Linked DNA regions of Homo sapiens. The protein of the gene in region 1 purifies or fractionates together with the protein of each later gene. This does not show direct contact. Each region holds a gene or a part of one and is shown on either strand. Other genes may lie near its edges.

The links. The genes of interacting proteins can lie anywhere in the genome.
Region 2: the proteins of EXD3 (region 1) and PSME4 purify together in Homo sapiens (affinity purification with mass spectrometry; one large-scale study listed by BioGRID and IntAct). This does not show direct contact.

What each region holds. Positions count from the first base shown.
Region 1 is NC_000009.12:137,343,163-137,346,662, forward strand, and holds part of EXD3 (exonuclease mut-7 homolog), read right to left. Parts: intron 1-3,500. UniProt on the Homo sapiens protein: Possesses 3'-5' exoribonuclease activity. Required for 3'-end trimming of AGO1-bound miRNAs.
Region 2 is NC_000002.12:53,960,994-53,964,493, forward strand, and holds part of PSME4 (proteasome activator complex subunit 4), read right to left. Parts: intron 1-3,500. UniProt on the Homo sapiens protein: Associated component of the proteasome that specifically recognizes acetylated histones and promotes ATP- and ubiquitin-independent degradation of core histones during spermatogenesis and DNA damage response.

The DNA of each region.
Region 1 (3,500 bases):
GACAATGAAATGTAATTTTACATGGATAGGACTGGCCAAGTGGACAAAGTTTAATAACATCAGTTGTGAATTTAATTTCTGTTGTAATTCAGCTGCTCACAGGATTAAACTCTAGGCATGGTGTTCAGCAATTTTACTTCTGCAGCTACAGGGAATAAGGGCTTCTTCTGGGCCAAGATAGAAGCTTGCAGGTCCTTCGTGTGGAGCTGAGCTCATCTTTTTCTTTCCCACCTTCTCCAGCACAGTTAGGAGCAACCAGCCCATCCCATTATATCCATTAGTTTGACTGCAGTGCTTGGAAGTAGCAAATACTTGTTATGTCAGAATCTGTGCTTCTATAGGTTCCCAATTAAGGGTATCCCATGGCAATATTTTGAATAATTTTGCAACATCTCACCATGGACTACTGTATCTTTTTTTTTTTTTTTTTTTTTTTTTTTTTTTGAGACGGAGTCTCGCTCTGTTACCCAGGCTGGAGTGCAGTGGCGTGATCTCGGCTCACTGCAAGCTCTGCCTCCCGGGTTCATGCCATTCTCCTGCCTCAGCCTCCCGAGTAGCTGGGAATACAGACGCCCGCCACCATGCCCGGCTACTTTTTTGTATTTTTAGTAGAGATGGGGTTTCCCCGTGTTAGCCAGGGTGGTCTTGATCTCCTAACCTCGTGATCCGCCTGCCTCGGCCTCCCAAAGTGCTGGGATTACAGGTATGAGCCACCGCGCCCGGCCTTTTTTTTTTTTTTTTTTTTTTGAGACAGAGTCTCACTTTGTCTCCCAGGCTGGAGTGCAGTGGCACGATCTCGGCTCACTGCAATCTCCACCCCCTGGGTTCACGCCATTCTCCTGCCTCAGTCTCCCAAGTAGCTGGGACTACAGGTGCCCGCCACCACACCTGGCTAATTTTTTATATTTTTAGTAGAGACGGGGTTTCACCGTGTTAGCCAGGATGGTCTCGATCTTCTGACCTGGTGATCCGCCCACCTCGGCCTCTGAAAGTGCTGGGATTACAGGTGTGAGCCACTGCGCCCGGCCTGTATCCTCTTTACTACTGGAAACTAGGCCCTTAGTGTCTCTAAATCTAATAATGTAGAGAACCAATTCCAGAAGTCCCAGAACCAGTGCAGACAACTCATCTGTAAGACTTTCCTCTGCAACAACTTCCGGCACCAAAATTGGTCAGTTGGGCCGATCTAGAGAAGCAAACCAGTGGGAGATAAATATTAAGAGATTTACTATCAAGAACTGGCTTCCATGCTTGCAGTGGCTGACGAGACATGTCTGGGAAGATTGTGAGTGGCGTGGAACTTCGCTGGCACGTTTCCTGTCCACTTCAGCATCTGCGGAGGCGGCCAAGGGCTGATACCCCTGCGCTTTCTGGAAGCCTCGGGTTTGCTTTCGAAGACTGTTTCTGACCTCACTCCTGCACAGATACACACTCAGCTTTTCAGGTTACACTTTTGGGAATGATCACTTATTCTTAGCATCTTTTGCCATCTGGACAGGATGAGAGTTTCCCAAATCATCAAGTCCTAGTTCCTTTCTGTTTAAGAGCGCTCCCCTCAGTCCCTCCTGCTCACATTCTATCATAAGCAGCAGGAACAGGCCAGGCTGCACCTTCCACTGTCTGGAGATCTCCTCAGCTGAATGTCCAGGTCTTCTGCTCACATTTCACCATAAGCAGCAGAAACAGGCCAGGCTGCACCTTCCACTGTCTGGAGATCTCCTCAGCTGAATATCCAGGTCTTCAGCTCACATTTCACCATAAGCAGCAGAAACAGGCCAGGCTGTACCTTCCACTGTCTGGAGATCTCCTCAGCTGAATGTCCAGGTCTTCTGCTCACATTTCACCATAAGCAGCAGAAACAGGCCAGGCTGCACCTTCCACTGTCTGGAGATCCCCTCAGCAGAACACCCAGGTTCACCTGACAAAGTCAGCTTCTCTCTGACAGCAGGACACAGCCCCATGGCGTTTCCCGCCACTACCTGGATGTGACAGGCACTTTGCCTCCCTCCACTTTGTCAGGACATTCTCCTCACATCCTCTGGGCTCTCGCCCGGAATGCTTTCTTTCCTTTTCCTTTTTAAAAAATGTTTGTAAATTTATTAGTAATGCTCCTTTTGAAAGGTATGGAAAATGAAACTCAAGGTATAATCCTTATATGAAACAATTAACTCATTTCTCCAGGAGTCTTAGTAGAAAACACATGATTTGGAAAGATCCTGCCGGGTGTGGTGGCTCACGCCTGTAATCTCAGCACTTCGGGAGGCCGAGGTGGGCAGATCACCTGAGGTCAGGAATTCGAGACCAGCCTGACCAACATGGAGAAACCCTGTCTGTACTAAAAATACAAAAATTAGTTGGGTGTAGTGGCGAGCACCTGTGATCCCAGGTACTCAGGAGGCTTAGACAGGAGAATCGCTTGAACCCGGGAGGCGGAGGTTGCAGTGGGCCCAGGTAGCACCACTGCACTCCAGCCTGGGCAACAGAGTGAGGCTTTGTCTCAAAAAAAAAAAAAAGGAAAGAAAAGAAAAGAAAAAGATAGCAAAAGCTCCATAGAAGCCAAAAGGATACCAAAGCTTCCCTTCTTCAAAAATGTTCTCTCCAGAAAATGCATGAATCTATGTCTGCCTCTGTGAGATCACTGCACCTGTGAGTAAGGTGGTCACAAATGTGAACACCTGTCTAGAACATCCTAGACCGACATAAACAGACAATCCTTGAAGCTGCAGAAAACAAATGAGGGTGAAAATAAAGCTGTACTATTTGTAGAGCAAGTCCTAAAAATACAGAATTCACTAAGAGCTTGGAACAGAAGACCTAGGAGATAAAAACCAGGGAAAAGTAATTAGAAAAATACTTCACTCCTTGATCGAGACCATCCTGGCTAACATGGTGAAATTTTTAGCCGTCTGTACTAAAAATACAAAAAATTAGCCAGGAATGGTGGCAGGAGCCTGTAGTTCCAGCTACTCGGGAGGCTGAGGCAGGAGAATGGCATGAACCTGGGAGGCGGAGCTTGCAGTGAGCCGAGATCGCACCACTGCACTCCGGGCTGGGAGACAGAGCAAGACTCCGTCTCAAAAAAAAAAAAAAAAAAAAAAAAAAAAATTCACTCCTTACTGAAGGAAAAAAAGAGGGAATAAATGTTATTAAAAAACTATATGGGTAAGATTACCCATAACTAGTATTTAAACAAATCGAGGGTTCAGGATGGATTCCGCCCTCTCCATGAAGAATAAATACCAACTAACCCCACTTCTTACACCCCTGAAGGAGAAAACTGGTCCATTTGGCTTTGATCTGACACCCTCACACTCTTGCCGTTTAGGTCGAACCATCTCGGCTCCATCTGTTTCAGCTGCATTGACCAGCATCCCACTTCTATTTCCGAACCTTCGACACTTTTAATGTCCGTATTTCCACAGATGGTCAGTTTCAGCTGCATTTACCAGCATCCCACCTCTATTTCTGAACCTTCGACACTTTTAATGTCCGTATTTCCA
Region 2 (3,500 bases), on another chromosome or scaffold:
CTACCCAGGAGGCTGAGGCAGGAGAATCGCTTGAACCTGGGAGGCAGAGGTTGCAGTGAGGCAAGATGGTACAATTGCACTCCAGCCTGGGTGACAGAGCAAGACTCAGTCTCAAAGAAAGAGAGAGAAGAAATGTTAAGTGTAAACCAAATACAGAAGTAGTCAACCTCAAGGTTCCAAATGGGAATATTTATAGTATGTGCTGCTTTTAACATTCCAATAGAGGTCTCAATGAATGTAGAGGTTTTCTGTTGCTGTTGTTGTTTGCTTACCGTTTTTACTACCATGCTCTCAGTTTGGTGTTCATATAGAATGAGATTTTGATCTAATTTTCTACAAAGGTTAGACAGAAACATAGATTAGGATTTTTGTATTTGAAAAGGAGGGAAGAGGCGCTAGGTGCAGTGGCTTATGCCTGTAATCCCAGCACTTTGGGAGGGCGAGGCAGGAAGATTTGAGCCCAGGAGTTTGCGACCAGCCGTGGCAACATAGTGAGACCCTGTCTCTACAAAAATAAAAATAAAATAATAAAAACCTAGCTGGGTGTGCTGATACATGCCCGTGGTCCCAGCTACTCCAGAGGCTGAGATGGGAAGATCGCTTGAGCCTGGGAGGTTGAGTTTGCAGTGAGCTGTGACAGCGCCACTGCACTCCAACCTGGGCGACAGAGCAAGACTGTCTAAAAATAAGGGGGGGAAGGGGGATGTTTGAAATGCTCATTCCCCATTGCTGTAAAGAAACAGCACTTCAACATAAATTTAATTTCCTCAGCAAGGCCATTTTTATACTTTCTGCAGAAAAGGTACACTCGCCAGCAGTTTTGCCAGGAGAGTACACCCAACAAAGGAGACAGGGTCATTTATAACCCGAAGCGTCCACCCTACTGTTGTGTCCGGTTTCCACTTGCTAGAACGGGACCTCACATTCTGTATTTGTCCCGATTGGCTAGCAACTTAGAACTTTTTAAAAGAGGCAAAGGCAGAGAACAAAGGAAGGAGGAAGTAACTTGTGGAATGCTGAGAAAGATAAAAACACCTTCAAATAAGGAAGAGGAACAGGCTATGACCTAATGCTTGCTTGGACCAGTATAAGCATGCCAGGGCAAATATTTAGGCTAAATTGTGGGAGCTAAGAACATAAAGTACATTGATTTCTTCATTATGGCTAGCAGATATTTAAGAATGTTTGCAAGGGTCTTTGAATAAATTTTGCTTGTAAGAGAAGTTACTATTTATTCCTAATTAGATGGGGAGGAAAGTCTTTGAAGAGGAACCTCTACTTTTTACAGGGGCGAAAGGGATTCTCTAAAAATAAGTCTCATTTAGCAGAAAAAAGTTAATTCCCAGGTTCCATAAGAAAAACAGTTCTTAGAAGTTATATAGTTATATGCTTATTTACAAGCTTGCCAAAAAAAAAAAAACAGTAAAAATTTGCCTCCACTTCAATTAACAACAGGTATTTCAAATACAATTTTATTTTACAACACTGCAGAAAGAACACTTGGGAAAACCATTCTTAAGTGACATTCAGATCTCAGAACATCAAACGGTACATTTCTTTTTTCTAACTGCCTTTCTTAGTGCCTCAAAGTAAGGCATTAAAACACAGTGGTCAGAATGAGATTTTCTTTTCAAATAATACATTCAGAATTCCTATTTTCTTCAATGTTTTTGATGAAGTTACCACCTGGCCTAGTCTGTCCTAAATGAACAAAAATGTGCACTGAATAAAGCACACAGCTGGGCACGGTGGCTCACGCCTGTAATCCCAGCACTTTGGGAGGCTGAGGCAGGCGGATCATGAGGTCTGGAGATCGAGACCATCCTGGCCAATAAGGTGAAACCCCATCTCTATTAAAAACAGAAAAATTCGCCAGGCATGGTGGCTGCACCTGTAGTCCCAGCTACGCAGGAGGCTGAAACAGGAAAATCACTTGAACCCAGGAAGTGGAGGCTGCAGTGAGCCGAGATCGCGCCACTGCACTCCAGCCTGGGTAACAGAGCGAGACTCAGTGTCAAAAAAAAAAAAAAAAGGACACATACCATATGCAGTGGCTCACGCATGTAATCCCAACACTTTCCCAACACTTTCAGGAGGCAAAGGTGGAGGATCACTTGAGCCCAAGAGTTCAAGGCCAGCCTGAGCAACATAGTGAGACTTTGTCTCAAGAAAAACTTTAAAAATTAGCTTGGCGTGGTGGTATATGTCTGTAGTCCAAGCTAACCAGGAGCCTGAGATGGGAGGATCGCTCGAGGCCAGGAGCTCAAGGTTAAAACAGGGGGGTATGATTGCACTCCCTATGATTCCAGCCTGGGTAAGAGACCAAGACCATCTCTTCAAAAAAAAACACACAAAAAAGAAAGAGCGCACTGAAACTTCCAGAGGGCAGAAAACTTGCGCTGATACATCCCAAACGCCAAAACCAGTGCCCAGCCCACGCATTGCACTCAAAAAATTGTGTTCAAAGAAGATTGATGTCTGCCTCTACTACACTGTATTAACCCATGACTGTACACTAACCTATGAGCCTCTTGTGTCTTCATTTTTTAAATGAAGGTAACTTAAGAGAATACTTGTTACCCCAGGATTGAGTCTAAGTCTTCAAAGGTAAAAGGCAGAAATGAAAGATGTCATAATGTGAAAATGTTCATTAATGAGCTATTTTCTTGATCTCTGTCCATGAGATTTGATTACAGTAAACCTTAGGCAAAAAAATGCAAATGAAATGGAAACTCAGAAGTAAAATCACAAATTTGGCAAAGAAGCAGAACCTTATGAGATTGATCAAAGTGATAATAGATGTTAATTTTTTTAGGTTTTATAATAGTATTGGTATTGCTTTTTTTAAAAAATTCCTTTTCCTTTGAAGATATATACTGGAAACATTCATGAATAAATAATATACTTCAAAAACAATGGGGAAAGGGGATGATGAAAAGAACATAACTGGCCATGAGTTAATTAAGTGAAGATAGGTGATGAGGTTCATTATATTGTCTTTTGAATATTTGATATTTTTCATAATAAAAAATATGTAATGAAAAGAGTTTAAATATTAGAAAACTTCAAATCAGAAACACACATATGCTCATTGGCCAGTGATGTTCAGGAAGAAATAGCCAATTAACTAGTGAAAAGAAAACGACAAGCTGTTTTCAAGAAATTACTGAGAGATCTCTGGAAAACAGTAAGGGCCTCAAATATTTTTGAAAAAAAAGTATATGTGTGACATCATCATGAAAAATCAAATGTATGCATGTGTAGAGACAGAGGGTATACAGGAACTCTATACTTTCCATTCAATTTTGCTGTGAACCTAAAATTGCTCTCAGAAATAAAATTTTTGAAAAAATCAAATATGAAATATGTCTTATTGTGCTATTACATTATACAACTTTATCAAAGAAATTCATGTTCTCCAAAATCAGTTCCTTTTTTTTCCCCTTATGGAAAATCAACTTTCTCACTACAAAGAAATTTTGGTTCCCATTTTGAATGAT